2 linked regions of the Homo sapiens genome follow. Changing the gene in region 1 together with any one later gene gives a genetic interaction. Each region holds a gene or a part of one and is shown in the gene's direction. Other genes may lie near its edges. The genes, in order: DNAJC16 and GBF1.

The links.
Region 2: changes in DNAJC16 (region 1) and GBF1 together harm fitness more than expected from each alone (negative genetic interaction), as found in Homo sapiens cells (one study listed by BioGRID).

The regions. Positions count from the first base shown.
Region 1 is NC_000001.11:15,522,530-15,529,970, forward strand, and holds the start of DNAJC16 (dnaJ homolog subfamily C member 16 isoform 1 precursor), read left to right. Parts: upstream 1-4,318; 5' UTR 4,319-4,429; intron 4,430-6,558; 5' UTR 6,559-6,576; coding exon 6,577-6,743; intron 6,744-7,441. Other genes in the region: CASP9 (caspase-9), read right to left, coding at 1,540-1,671. UniProt on the Homo sapiens protein: Plays an important role in regulating the size of autophagosomes during the formation process.
Region 2 is NC_000010.11:102,367,257-102,374,531, forward strand, and holds part of GBF1 (Golgi-specific brefeldin A-resistance guanine nucleotide exchange factor 1), read left to right. Parts: intron 1-221; coding exon 222-304; intron 305-961; coding exon 962-1,198; intron 1,199-1,482; coding exon 1,483-1,576; intron 1,577-1,954; coding exon 1,955-2,131; intron 2,132-2,454; coding exon 2,455-2,519; intron 2,520-2,604; coding exon 2,605-2,728; intron 2,729-2,917; coding exon 2,918-2,989; intron 2,990-3,127; coding exon 3,128-3,222; intron 3,223-3,450; coding exon 3,451-3,604; intron 3,605-7,275. UniProt on the Homo sapiens protein: Guanine-nucleotide exchange factor (GEF) for members of the Arf family of small GTPases involved in trafficking in the early secretory pathway; its GEF activity initiates the coating of nascent vesicles via the localized generation of activated ARFs through replacement of GDP with GTP.

The DNA.
Region 1 (7,441 bases):
AGACTCCTATCTGTACAAAAAAAAAATTTTTTTTAATTAGCCAGGCATGGTGGCATGTGCCTAAAGTCCCAGCTGCTCTAAAGGCTGAGGCAGGAAGACCACTTAAGCCCAGGAGGTCAAGGTCGCAGTGAGCCATGATCTCATCCCTGCACTCCAGGCTGGGCAAGAGTGAGACCCTGCCTCAAAATAAGTGTAAGATGTGGCAATACTGGGCCATTTGTTGATATGGCCATACTCAGCTGGAGACGGAGGGCAGTGCAAAGGCTATCCACTATGACGCCCATCCATTGGTCCTCCATGGGCATTTGAGTTTGTGATCCCCGTGAACATTCCTGAAGGCAAGGACTGTGGCCTCAAACCATTACTGTTCCCCAGTAGGGGCCACACAGAAGGCACAAAACTTATTTTATTATTAATGAATAATTACTCATATGATACTCAATTATTTAAAGACTCTTTCCCTGGGCCAGGGCACTGGCCAGGGATATCCAGCCAGCCACTCACACCTACTGCACCTCATGGTAGGAAATATCTCCTGCATCCTCACAGGCCTGTGATGAGGGTCAAATGAGACAAAGATGGGAAAGTGCTTTTAAACAAAACCTCAAATGTTTGACTTCATTATTCTCCATTCTGCATCAGGTCCCCTCATTTCCAAAACCTCTTAACAAAACATAAACTGAACACAGAAGGGGCTGGCCAAAGAGGGCAGGGTACGCTGATCCCCCGCTCTGTGCCTAGCACTACAGTTTCACATCCGTTATTTCATTTAGTCCTTATGACAGTATTATTCTTATTCCCATTTCACAGCCCAGAAACTGTGGCTCAAAGAGGGTAAGTGACTGGCCCAAGAACACGCTGCCAGGCAGCCTGATGCCAAAGTGGGTTCCCGAAACCTCTATGCTAGAAAAGTAAAAACGCACACGCCTCCTTCCTCGCAAGTATTAACGTAAATTAAAATGGAGACCAACCATGAAGAATTCCTGAGCAGACAAAACCAATCAGGTATCCTAAGTGACCTAAATCTTGCTTAAACTGCAAACATAAGCAAAATTTAACTTGGGTCATATCTGATAAATGCTTATGTTAGAGAGAAATAAAACTTAAGACCAGCCAAAAGCAGTCAATTAACAGACCTTAAAAAAAAAAGGCAATTTTGTAACTGCAAACCAATCAAATAATTTCTTTATTTTGCTTCCACATTTTCCCAATAAATACTTGCCTCTGACGTTTTGTCATTGCAACACTAAAGCTCTTTCAGTCTGATGTTCTCCAATTCATGAATTGTTTCTTATTCAAAGTTCTCAAGATGTGTCTCACATTTTTCCTTTACACAAGAAACACAAGCACTAACAGTGTACGCTGACTGAGTATGGCATGGAATCGCTTTAGCGAACACCCGACTAAGAGGTGTTTGGGATTCTTTGGCTCCGCTGAGGGGTTTGAAGCCACAGGGAAGGCTAGGCTCCCGCACAACGCCTCCTCGAGGGGCGTGGGGACCCGGCCGTGCAGCGCGGGGACAGGGGGCCGGGGGCGCACCTGGATGTCCTCGATCATATGGGGCCTGAACAGCTCGCGGCTCAGCAGGGCGTCCCAGAGCTGGTCCACCTGCAGCTCTTCCACCAGCCGCAGCCGGCACCGCCGCAGGAGCCGCCGATCCGCTTCGTCCATGGCGAGTAGCCAACTAAGACTCCAGGCCGCCTCAGTCCGCTTCCGGGCCTCGGCCGCCCGCCCCAGTCCCCAGGACCCGCCCCCGCCCCAGGGCCTGCCCCCGCGTCACGGCCCCGGGTCAGTCTTCGCTCCCCACCGCCTCCGGACGCATCTCCAAGGCCTCGCCCCGCCCCCAGGAGTCGCTCTTGCGTCACCGCCCCGCCCTCAGGACGCACCTCTGCGCCTCGCCCCGCCCCCAGGGCCAAGCCTCCCATCACCGCGCCGCCCCAGAACACGCTCCGCGTCACCGCCCCGCCCCAGAACCCGCCCCACGTCACCGCCCCGCTCCAGAATCCACCACTGCGTCCCCGCCCCAGAACCCGCCCCGTATCCCCGCACTGACCTCACGTCACCGCCCCGCCCCCGCGTTACCGTCCCGCCCGCAGGACGCATCTCCAACGCCTCGCCCCGCCCCAAGGATTCGCTCTTGCGTCACCGCCTCGCCTTCAGGACGCCTCCGCGCCTCGCCCTGTCCCCAGGGTCAATTCTGGGGTCACCGCCTGTCCCCAGAACCTGCCACCGCGTCACCGCCCACTCCCCGGGACGCATCTAGAAGGTCTCGCCCCGCCCCCAGGATTCGCTCTGCGTCATCGCCCCGCCCTCAGGACGCACCTCAGCGCCTCGCGCCGACCCCAGAATCCATTCCGCGCCACCGCCCCGCCCCCAGGATTCAACCCACGCCCCCACCCCGCCCCCAAGGTCAATCTTGCGCCACCGCCCCGCCCCCAAGGGCTAGCCTCGTGCCACCGCCCCGCCTCCAAGAGCCAATCCCCTCCCCTCGCTCCACCCTCAGAATCGTCCTTGCGTCACCGCTCAGCCTCAGACTCCAGTTCGCACTCTCGCCCCGCCCCCAAAGTCAATCCTCACCCCCAGGATCCATCCTTCTGTCACCGCCCCGCCCCAAGGCGGCACCTCCGCGACTCGCCCCGCCCCCAGGGCCCCGCCCCGCCCCCGCATCACCTCCCCACTCCGGGCGCAGGTGCCCTTTTGCAATTCTGGCACCAGTTCCTGGTCCACCGCGGGCCCTTCGCCAGAATTCACTATAGCCCCGCTTTTACAGAGATCCGGAGGGAGTCGTCACACTTCCAGCAAGAGGGAAACCATGAGTGGAGCCGTGATCTGTCCCGCCCATTCAACCTCCTCCGGGGCATGGCTTCCCCTTAGCCCCCTCCTCCACCCCAAGTAAAACCATAAGCTCCCCTCACCGCCCTTGTGCCCAGATCGCAGTTGACTGTTCCAAACTCGAGTGTCTGATCCAACCAAGCCCACCTTACACAGTCTTCCATTCCCTCTTCCCTCCCTCCCACCCTAACACCTCCCACACAGAAAAAAAAAAAAACGGCAGAAATCTAGTCCTGTAAACTCCCATCGTTCTGAACGGTTCATTTTCACATTTCAAAAATAATCGTTTCTGTTTACTGAGCATTTGCTAAGTCCCAGGCATCGTGCTAGCCACTTTTCATGCTTATTTCACTTATCCTTAACTACAATCCTGCCAGGAAAGTATTCCCACCCCCCGCCGGTTTTACAGATGTAGACCCTAGGGTTCAGGGAAACGAATGTTTAAGGTCACTTGGGTACTAAGTGGCCGAGGCAGGCAGGATTGAAACCCGAACCTGACTCTGTAAGCCACACTCTTAAGAATCCACCTTAGAATATAATCTCTTGAGCACCAAAACCTCAGCCCCATTCGTTCACTTCTACGAATATTTATTGAGCCTGTAGTCAAACACTAAGAACATGAAGGTGAACAAAACAAAATCCCTGCTTTTAGAGTTTACATTCCAGTGGAAGGATCAGGTGATAAACTATATCAATAAATAAGACATACTATGTTAGATAGTGATAAATGCAAAGAGAAAAAAATAAAAACAAGACAGGGAGATATGAAAGCTCTTTATATCCGCAAGGGATCTATCTCATTGGCTCAAAGAAAGTTTCCTTCACTTACCTGTGCCTTATCCCTCTCTCCACCCCCACCGCCCTTTCCCCGTGCTTAAGGCACAGACTGGTACATTCTTGGGTGGAGCTCGGTTTTCGGTAAACGGGATTAAAAGTCCTGGATTCTCTCAAAAAAAAAAAAGATAAGTAAACAAAAATAAAAGGAATGCTGGATTCTAGGCCTTGGGCAAATCTCTGCCCCTCTCTGGACCTCGGTCTCCCTATCAATATTGCAGGAGTTGGAGAGTTAAAGAATCCCTAAGGTCACTTCCAATCTGACGCTCTAAGGTTCTACGAATAGGGTTAAAGAGAATAGGGACCAGAGAGTGCGTCCCCATCCTAGCAACTGTTGCTAGACGAGGGCCATCTCCCGGTAGGAGCGGAAACACCTTCCTGGATCGAGGAGGTCCTTCTGGTATCCCATCATGCATAGCGACTTCGCCTCGCTAGGAGGCACGTTTTGGCCTCTTTGGTCACGATCAGCCTTTTGGCTGCAACCAAAGAGCGCGCCTCGTTTCTATAGCAACCACCCCAGGTCCACGCCTAGACGGCGAGTGGCAAGGGTCAAAATAGATTCGCCCAGTAGACGCCCTCGACCTGTTCGGTCCTCGCCTTCAGTGCGATAGACCTTTAAGCGTCACGTGACTCCCCTCGGGCTTGTCCCCTCCTCTTTCCCCTCCCCAGGCCCAGGCGAGCGCTGGTGTGGACGGGAAGCTCCCGGCCCGGCGAACTAACTGGAGCACGGAGCTGCAGCCGGTTGGGCCGGTGTACTTTCCCGGTAACTCCTTCCCGGCGTGACGCGCGGAACCGCGGACGCGGCGGGGCCAGGCCGACTCAGGGATTTCCCCTCAGTTCCTTCTCGTTTCCAGTCACTGCTGGCCCCGGGGGGAGCCGGGAGCCAACAGGGCCGGGCCCTGGGCTCTCGGAGGGCGGCGGGGGAGGGGGCTGTCTCCTGCAGGGTTGCGACCTCCGGCAGGAGCGCGAGGCGGGGCTTAGACCTGGAGCTTGTCTCTGGGAGCTTCTTCCTGGTCCTGGATATGCTGCCCAGAGAGCTGGCAGCCTACCTGTTGGGCAGGTGTTTGCTGCTCCGAGGTCGGCGCCGTCTATCTCGCATGTCAGCTAAAGAACTTCCCAGACCACCGCCACTTCGGCCCTCTAGCTGGAAGGAACTGACATGGTTAAATAAGGCAGCGATCGTACTGCATGGTAGAAATAATAGCACTAACGACCATTTGTTGACTGTTGACTCTGGGCTCAGTAAACCCTTTACATGCATTTAGTCCCCACATGATGATCCTTCAAGGTGGTAGTATTCATTCCCATTTTATGAATAAGGACGCTGATGCTTAGTAAGTTTAAATAATTTGCCCAAGGTAATAAAGTAGTGGAGAATAGATCCTAGTCTTCAACCCATATGCTTAACCAGTAGCTACATTGCCTTCACGTGTTTTCTAGGATATAATAGGTTGCCTTAACAAAGAAGAAACTGGTTTGTTTTAGGATTTTATTCAGCACGTATGCAATTTTAAACGTTGGTCATCAGATTAGTCAATTTTGTGAGGACTCCCAGGCGGCATTAAACTTGCACTTACGGAAATCCACCACTGTTATAGCTTTGCCCTTCTTCAGTAAGGTGTCACAGAAGACACTTGAACCTTAAAACTGTATTAACTTGTGAGAAATCAAGATAAATGTGTTCCTTGAAAAAAAACATTGTAGGGTATAACAGCAATCATAATTGTGGAGTATAAATATCTGCAGTTCCAGCACTACCCTGTTCATTAACCAGCCAGGATTATTTCCAAAATTCACAATGAATTAAGTCACTGTACTCACCAGAGATGGAGCTTGAAACTTTTAAAGACCACGCCTGCTATTTGGTCTTTGCCGTTAATTCTTCTTCACATGTAAAACTAAATTTTTTCTTGCCGCTTTTTCTCATCTGAGGTTTCCATTAATAATGACCATATTGGCCGGCGCGATGGCTCACGCCTGTAATCCCAACACTTTGGGAGGCCGAGGCGGGTGGATCACCTGAGGTCAGGAGTTCAAAACCAGCCTGGCCAACATGGTGAAACCCTGTCTCTACTAAAAATACAAAAAATTAGCTAGGCAGGGTGGCGCATGCCTGTAATCCCAGCTACTGGGGAGGCTGAGACAGGAGACTTGCTTGAACCTGGGAGGGGGAGGTTGCAGTGAGCTGAGATCCCATCATTGCACTCCAGCCTGGGCAACGAGTGAAACTCCGTCTCAAAAAAAAAAAACAAAAAAACACCATATTACTAATGATTAAAGAGCAGCTTCTCATTTTCTTGTTTGAATGGTGTGGTGAGAAAGAATAGAATTGAGGCATACTGCGTCTTAACTACACAGTTTTTTGAGAGTGTTTCACGTCCATGTTTGTACTTATTTAATGCCCAAGAATGCCACAACTATCTCATTTTGTAGTTTTGTACATGGTAAATCTTACAGTTTCATGAGTTTGTTTAACATGTACTCAATGAAGTATTCTTAAACCATTTATTTTATTTATTCTTATCAGAATAAATGAAATCATGTATTTGAGAGGTAGTCGTCCTGATTATCCTATTTAGGTTTTCTCTCATTTATGTATTATTTCTGCATCCCATTCATTTTCATTCATTTCTAAAGCTTTTCTAGTCAAAGTGTTCTGGAGAGTTGCTATTCTTATTACTCATCTTTTCATCTGTAATAGTTCTCATTTGTGATATTCAAAAGCAGTAGCGAGATTTTTATTTTAAGATACAGTTCAACAGCTTGACACTTTTCCTGCAAAATACCTTTTGTTGGTTTTGTTTTTCATCTATATATCTTATACCTTTACCTAAAAAGCAAGACTGTCCAGGTTTCTGCCACTGAAACTCATTGCCTCTTCAATCATTTCAGCTCTGGAAAGGAAGAGAAATGGAAGTGAGAAAGTTGAGCATTTCCTGGCAGTTCTTGATAGTTCTGGTTCTGATCCTGCAAATTCTGTCTGCGTTGGATTTTGACCCATACAGAGTCCTAGGGGTCAGCCGAACAGCCAGTCAGGCTGATATTAAAAAGGCTTATAAGAAGCTCGCCCGGGAATGGTAGGTGAAACAAAGAAATAGAGGTTTAACATAAGCTAAACAGTCTTAGCAGGGATGAAGTCTAAATTATGACTAGCTTTTATTTGTCTCTGTTTCTATGTTCAATATATATATCTGTCTAAAATATTTTACGCAGGAGAGCTAATGTTCATGTTCTATAATTGTTAGCGATAAGATCCAAAGCCTATGTTTACTCTGAAACTCCCTTTTAGGAATACTTTGGCTTAAAGAATTGCCTTAGATACTGTTAGCATATTTAATGTTAAAGTAACAAGTTTTAATTTTAAAAAAATGTATATATAGTCAATAATGGATATGCTACCCTTCCCATGATACATTATTCATAAAGTAACTTTATGAGTGTAATTGCTAAACAGGAACACTATACAACCCTATTCTCTAAATTATTAATTTCTACACTTTGAAAAAAAGTTAAGAGTAATAGCCTTTTGCCTCCAAAAAAAAAAATTCAGAAACCAAGGATAGTTGTCTCTTGATATCCATGAGGTCTTGGTTCCAGGATCCCCAGAAATACCAAAGTCATTGGATGCTCAAGTCCCTATATAAAATAGCATAGTATTTGCATATAATCTATGCACGTCCTCTCATATACTTTAAATCATCTCTAGCTTACTTATAATACCTAATACAATGTAACTGCTGTGCAAATGGTTGTTATACTGTTATTGTTTAAGGAA
Region 2 (7,275 bases), on another chromosome or scaffold:
GGAGGTAGCAGGAAGGACATAGGATTTCCAGTGGGCATGATGGATGGGGTTCTGTCCAAGGGAATCAGGAAGGGCTGGCCAACCTAGAAAAGGGACTGGGGTGGGGAAGTGGGTTTTTTCGCTTACCTTTTCCTAAGTCCTATTTACTGAAAACCCAGGAGTTCCTTAGGTGGGGCTTCAGTGTTGACACAAGGGGAAAAAACTTACTGGCCTGTCTCTAGGAGTTTCGCAAAAATCTGAAAGGTGTGAATGGAGGCAAGGACTTTGAGCAAGACATCCTGGAGGACATGTACCATGCCATCAAGTGAGTATACATAGAGAATAGTGCAGTATCTCTGTTAAGAAGAAGCACATTGCTTCCTTTCCCAGTTTTTAGAGTCATGTCAGACTGCAGTGACTCACATGCCCTGGATTTAGCCTCAGGACTTAGTTGGGCAGCCCCCTCTCTGCCAACTGTTTCTTCCTTAAAGAAGCCCAAATGATATTGGGACTCTAGTACTCTAAGCCAGGGTCCAAAGTGCTGCTCTTAAGTAGGATATCATGGCCCCATTTTCTGAACTTAAAACAGGTACATTTTCCTGTATAGATTACAAGATGCTGGCTGGTAGAGAACCCAAGATGGGCACTGGAGTGTGAGGCCCAGGTTACAGGTCAGAAATGGGCCACTTAGTTTTTTACTGTAAATCAGAAAAGGTAGAATTGTTCATTTTATCACACCTAGTAAGAATGTGTGATCTTACTATAGAACTAAAGGCCTCACTTACAGATAGGGCTTTGAGATTATGGGACACTTCCTTTCTTTCTGTCTGCTCCCACTGGTGGGTGGAAAGCAGACCACTGAGCTGCAGTTCTGATGACCTCTCATCAGTGGAGAGTGCTAGTATGGATGAACTCCTAGTCTTGGTTTGGAACTAGTCAGGTTCAAAGCAGTGCAACTGCTCCTTCCCTTACCTCCTGACAGGAATGAGGAAATTGTAATGCCTGAGGAGCAGACAGGCTTGGTTCGGGAGAACTATGTGTGGAATGTGCTGCTTCATCGAGGTGCCACCCCTGAGGGCATATTCCTGCGTGTGCCTACTGCCAGCTATGATCTTGACCTCTTCACCATGACCTGGGGCCCCACTATTGCTGCTCTCTCTTATGTCTTTGACAAAAGCCTTGAGGAGACAATCATCCAGAAAGCCATCTCAGGCTTCAGGTAGCCCAGCTTTGGCCTTGGTCTTCACCTCCCACTAGCTCTGTGAGCTAACATGGTTTTCTCCATGCCTCTCTGACTCCTACTGTTACTTCATTAGAATGGGGTTCCCCCTGAGTTTTTGGAGGGAGGCTGAAGCTTGGGTAGGCTCAGTCTTAAACAGAAACAAAATTAAAAGGTTTCTTCCTGGGACTGACTGGGGAAGAGCCCCATGCAAGCTCAGGGACTTGGAAGGGCTGCTTGGCCTTCCAGTGACTCTGTTTCTGGGATGGGGGGTAACATTACAGGAAGTGCGCCATGATCTCCGCCCACTATGGCCTCAGCGATGTGTTTGACAATCTCATCATCTCTCTATGCAAATTCACAGCTCTCAGCAGTGAGGTGAGCAGGTGCAGGAACTGTGTACTTGGAGCTCCAAAGGAGGACCTCTCTTTTAGCCATGGATCTACCCTTATCAACAGACCTGGTTGCCCTCAGCGTCTTCCCTCACTGCCCCCACTTGAATATACCAGAGCTTAGGCCATTTCTGTCTTGCACACTCTGGGATAAAACTAGTGTTACTTCATGTAATGGGGATGGGAAAGGAGATACAGGAGTGGGGAAGGCCTTAACTAGGTTAACCCACTCCCACCAGTATTATGGGGGATTGAAGCAGAGCCAACAAAAGGACCTGAGGGAACCATCATAGGCAGAGACCTAAGAGATTTTCCTTTCCAGACATTAGCTCGGCCTTAAGTCTGTTCTCTTCCTCTTTTCCAGTCTATTGAGAACCTGCCCAGTGTATTTGGAAGCAACCCTAAAGCCCATATTGCAGCCAAGACAGTATTCCATTTGGCCCATCGTCATGGTGACATCCTGCGGGAGGGCTGGAAGAATATCATGGAGGCCATGCTGCAGCTCTTCCGAGCCCAACTACTGCCCAAGGCTATGATAGAGGTAATTCTTAGTAGGAGACTAGTGAGCGATAACAAGGCAAGAGCTGCAACATTGTATGCTACCTGTACATAGAAGTAAGTGGTTGAGAGTAATGTTGGGCCTGATGCCTGCCACAGCTCACCAGGAATGCCTCAAATGTAAGACCACAGATCTTGGGGGATAGCTGTAAAAGAAGGCTGGTAGATGCCATTGCCAGTCACCAATTGGCACAATAGCATAGGGGCAGAAGACTAGAGGAGGAAATCCAGAGAACTTTGGTGGGTGGAGGCGGGCACAAATGCAAAGGACACATGGAAAGAAATTATTTTGACTTACTTTTCCAGGTAGAAGATTTCGTGGATCCCAATGGCAAGATCTCTCTACAGCGGGAAGAGACACCATCAAACCGGTAAGAGCAGACCAGAGGCTCAGGGGCTTGGGGAGGGAGAGTCAGAACTTTGGGGCTCACCAGGCCATGTGCCCTTTTTCTACAGAGGAGAGTCAACAGTGCTGAGCTTTGTGAGCTGGCTAACACTGAGTGGTCCTGAGCAGTCTAGTGTTCGGGGCCCATCCACTGAAAACCAAGAGGCCAAGAGAGTGGCCTTAGAGTGTATAAAGGTAACTGCCCATCCACCCCTGGTGAGAAAGCCTAAACACCTTCCTATTAGATGCTACTTGGTGAACTGAAGAATAAATCATCCAGGATTTGTAACCAGGGCTGACTCTGCCCTCTCCCCCTGGCTCTTGGGGACATTCTGTTCTCTTCAGCCTTTGTCAAAGACCCCCTCTCTCTTTTGCCCTCTCTAGCAATGTGACCCAGAAAAAATGATCACAGAAAGCAAGTTCCTCCAGCTGGAGTCACTACAGGAGCTCATGAAGGTAAAGGATGAAGAAAGGAAACATGGAACAACTGGCTGAATCTGGGAGGGGTGACAGGGACAGTATTATTTCTGTCAGGGCAGGGCCAGTGGTTGGCTTCTTTTCCATGCCTACTTTCCTGCTGCTGTTCCCCTTCAGGCTCTGGTCTCAGTGACACCAGATGAAGAGACATATGATGAGGAAGATGCTGCTTTCTGCCTAGAGATGCTGCTAAGGATTGTGTTGGAGAACAGGTAAGATGAGCGTAGTCTTTAGGCAGACCCCATGCTGGGCTTGTGCCAAAGGGATGGAAGCCATCTTGCTGAGTGGGCTCTGGGGAACTGTAGGCAGCAGGGGAGAAGCTTACTCATCATACCTGTCTACTTAGGGTATAATACCAATGAGTCCTGAAAGGCCTAGGGGACCTGTTGCCCAGTGGCCCCTCTGGCTGAGACTATCTTCATTCCTTTATGTCTACACAGGGATCGTGTGGGCTGTGTGTGGCAGACTGTTCGAGACCATCTATACCACCTCTGTGTTCAGGCACAAGATTTCTGCTTCCTTGTGGAGCGGGCAGTGGTGGGGTTGCTACGCCTGGCCATTCGGCTTCTCCGGAGAGAAGAGATCAGTGCTCAGGTAAGCAGAATGCATCTTGGAGAGTGGGCAGGTATGCAAGGGATTAAGGCCACAGTTGTCAATTATGAATATGGCCTGAGACAGAGAGTACATTTAGTGCCCCATAGCATGAGTCCAGTGACCAACCACAGGGCTGGTGCAGTCTAGCGGGTGGTACTGGGAGTGAGCCTGGAATGGCCTCAGGCATGGAGCTTGTGTTTGGCACCTCAGCCTCCTATGAATCTGCTTTGTAGGACTGGCCTGCTACTGCCTTATAATAGTCTCAGCCCTATACCTGGTTTCCTGTCATGCTTATGACCCTCTTGAGATCTCTTTGCTTAACTACAAAAAACAACAAGCATAGAACTAATAAGTGGATTCAACAAGGTCACAGGATGTGAGATCAATACACAAAAAGTAATTATATCTCTACATGCTAACAATGAACAATATGGAAACTGAAATTTAAAATACAATACCATTTACAAGGGTTCCAAATAAAGTGAAATACTTAATATATAGCTGACAAAACATGTATAAGATTTGTATGATGAAAACTACAAAACTACAAAATAAATTGAAGAAGATGTAAATAAATGAAGAGGCATACTATGTTCATGGATTGGAAGGCTCAACATAGTAACTTTGTCACTTCTCCCCAAATTGATCTGTAAATTCAACATAACTCCTATAAAAATCCCAGAAAGGTTCTTGTAGACATAGGTAAGCTTATTCTAAAATTTAGATGGAAAGGCACAAGCTCTAGAATAGCTAGAAAGAATAAAGTGGAAAGAATCACTCTCTCTGGGCCGGTTGCTGTGGTTCATGCCTGTAATCTCAGCACTGCGGGAGGCCACAGCGGGCAGATCACTTGAGGTCAGGAGTTCAAGGCCAGCCTGGCCAACATGGTGAAACCCCATCTCTACTAAAAACACAAAAATTAGCAGGGTGTGGTGGCACACACCTGTAATCCTAGCTACTTGGGAGGCTGAGGCAGGAGAATCGCTTGAACTCAAGGCGGAGGTTGCAGTGAGCTGAGATCGCGCCACTGCACTCCAGCTGGGTGACAGAGTGAGATTCTGTCTCAAAAAAAAAAAAAAAGAATCACTCTGGTATTAAGACTTACTGTCCACTTTGGGGGGCTGAGGCGGGTGGATCACGAGGTCAGGAGATCAAGACCAGCCTGACTAACGTGGTGAAACCCCGTCTCTACTAAAAATAGAAAAATTAGCTGGGCGTGATGGTGAGCGCCTGATTGCTACTCGGGAGGCTGAGGCAGGAGAATCGCTTGAACCTGGGAGGCGGAGGTTGCAGTGAGCCAAGATTGCGCCACTGCACTCCAGCCTGGGCAACACAGCGAGACTCCATCTCAAAAAAAAAAAAAGACTTACTCTCGGCTGGACACAGTGGCTCACGTCTGTAATCCCAACACTTTGTGAGGCCAAGGCAGGCAATCACCTGAGGTTGGGAGTTCGAGACCAGCCTGACCAACATGGAGAAACCTCGTCTCTACTAAAAATACAGAATTAGCCAGGCATGGTGGGGCATGCCTGTAATCCCAGCTACTCAGGAGGCTGAGGCAGGAGAATCACTTGAACCTGGGAGGCAGAGGTTGTAGTAAGCCAAGATCACACCATTGCACTCCAGCCTGGACAGCGAAACTCTGTCTCAAAAAAAAGACTTACTGTATAGCTATAGTAGTCAAGATTATGTGGTGTCGATGGAGGGACAGACACGTAGATCAATGGAAAAGAATAGAGAGACCAGAAATAAGCTCAACACAAATATGTTCAGTGGATTTTTTGACCAAGATGTAAGAACAATTCAGTGGAGGAGGAATAGCCTTTTCAATAAGTGGTGGAGTGATTAAAATCCATAGGAGGAAAAACCAAATGAACCTTGACCTAAACCTCATACCTTACAGGAAAATTAACTCCAATGGATCATAGATTTAAATGTAAAGCTATAAAAACTTTAGAAACAGGAGAAAATCTTCAGGATCTAGAGCTAAGCAAAGAATTTTTAGCATGTTTGGCAGTCCTGTGGATCTGTCTCTTGCCTCAACACTGTCTGGATGGAACAGATCCGGGGGAGACTCTCTTTCAAAAAAAGTAATAATTTTTAGACTTGACATTAAAAGCACAATCTAGAAAAGGAAAAATTGATAAGTTGGGCTACATTAATATTTTTAAAAGTTTTGTTCTATGAGAGCCTATGTGAAGAGGATGAAAAGACAAGCTGTAGACGAGGAGGAAATATTTGCAAATCACATATTTGAAGAAAGGTATCTGTAATATAAAAACTCTCAAAACACAACAGTGATAAAACAATCCAATTATTAATAGAAAATGGACAAAACATAGGAACAGATGTTTCACCAAAGAACACATACAGATGGCAGATAGGCACATGAAATGAAGATAGCATCATTAACCATCAGAGTACTGCAAACTAAAACCACAATGAGGCTCACACCTGTAAGCCCAGCACTTTGGGAGGCTGAGGTGGGTGGATCACCTGAGGTCAGGAGTTTGAGCCCAGCCTGGCCAACATGGTGAAACCATGTCTCTACCAATAAATACAAAAATTAGCTGGGCGTGGTCACACACACCTGTAGTCTCACCTACTGAGGAGATTGAGGTGGGAGGATCGCTTGAACGCAGGAGGTTGCAGTGAGCTGAGATCGTGCCACTGCACTCCTGCCTGGGTGACAGAGCAAGACTCCAAAAAATAAAAACACAATGAGACATCACTACCCACTTTTCAGAATGGCTGAAATAAAAAGTAGTGACAATACCAAATGCTGAAAGGACGTGGAGAAACTGGGTCATTCATATATTGCTGGGTGGGAATGTAAAATGGTACAGCTACTCTGCTGGCAGTTTCTTATAAAATGAAACATATAATTACCATACAACCCAGCAATTGCACCCTTGGACATTTATCCCAGAAAAGTGAAAGCTTACTTTCTCATAAAAACCTGTACATGAATGTTTATAGAAGCCTTAGTTGTAATAGCCAAAAACTGGAATCGGCCCAGATGACTTTCAATAGGTGAATAAACTGTGGTACATACACACCATGGAATACTATTCAGCAATTTAAAGCAACAGACATCTCCAGGGAACTATGCTGAGTGAAAGAAAAGCCAATCTAAAAAGGTTATGTAATATATAATTCCACTTATATAACATTTTTGAAATGACAGAACTTTAGAATTTGAAGACAGGCTGGGCGCAGTGGCTCACACCTGTAATCCCAGCACTTTGGGAAACTGAGGCTGGTGAATCACTTGAGGTCAGGAGTTCGAGACCAGCCTGGCCAACATGGTGAAACCCCATCTCTACTAAAAATACAAAAATTAGCCAGGCGTGGTGGCTCGCACCTGTAATCCCATCTACTTGGGAGGCTGAGGCAGGAGAATCACTTGAACATGGGAAGCAGAGGTTGCAGTGAGCTGAGATCCTGCCTGCACTCTAGCCTGGGCAACAGAGTAAGACTCCATCTCAAAAAAAAAAAGAATTTGAAGACAGATTGCTAAGGATTAGGGATGGGGGCAGGAAGGAGGAGGTGGGTGTGGTTATAAAAGGGCAACATGAGCTGGGCATGGTGGTGCATGCCTGTAGTTCCAGCTACTCTGGAGGCTGAGACAGGAGGATCACTTGCGCCCAGGAGTTTGAGGCTGCTGTGAG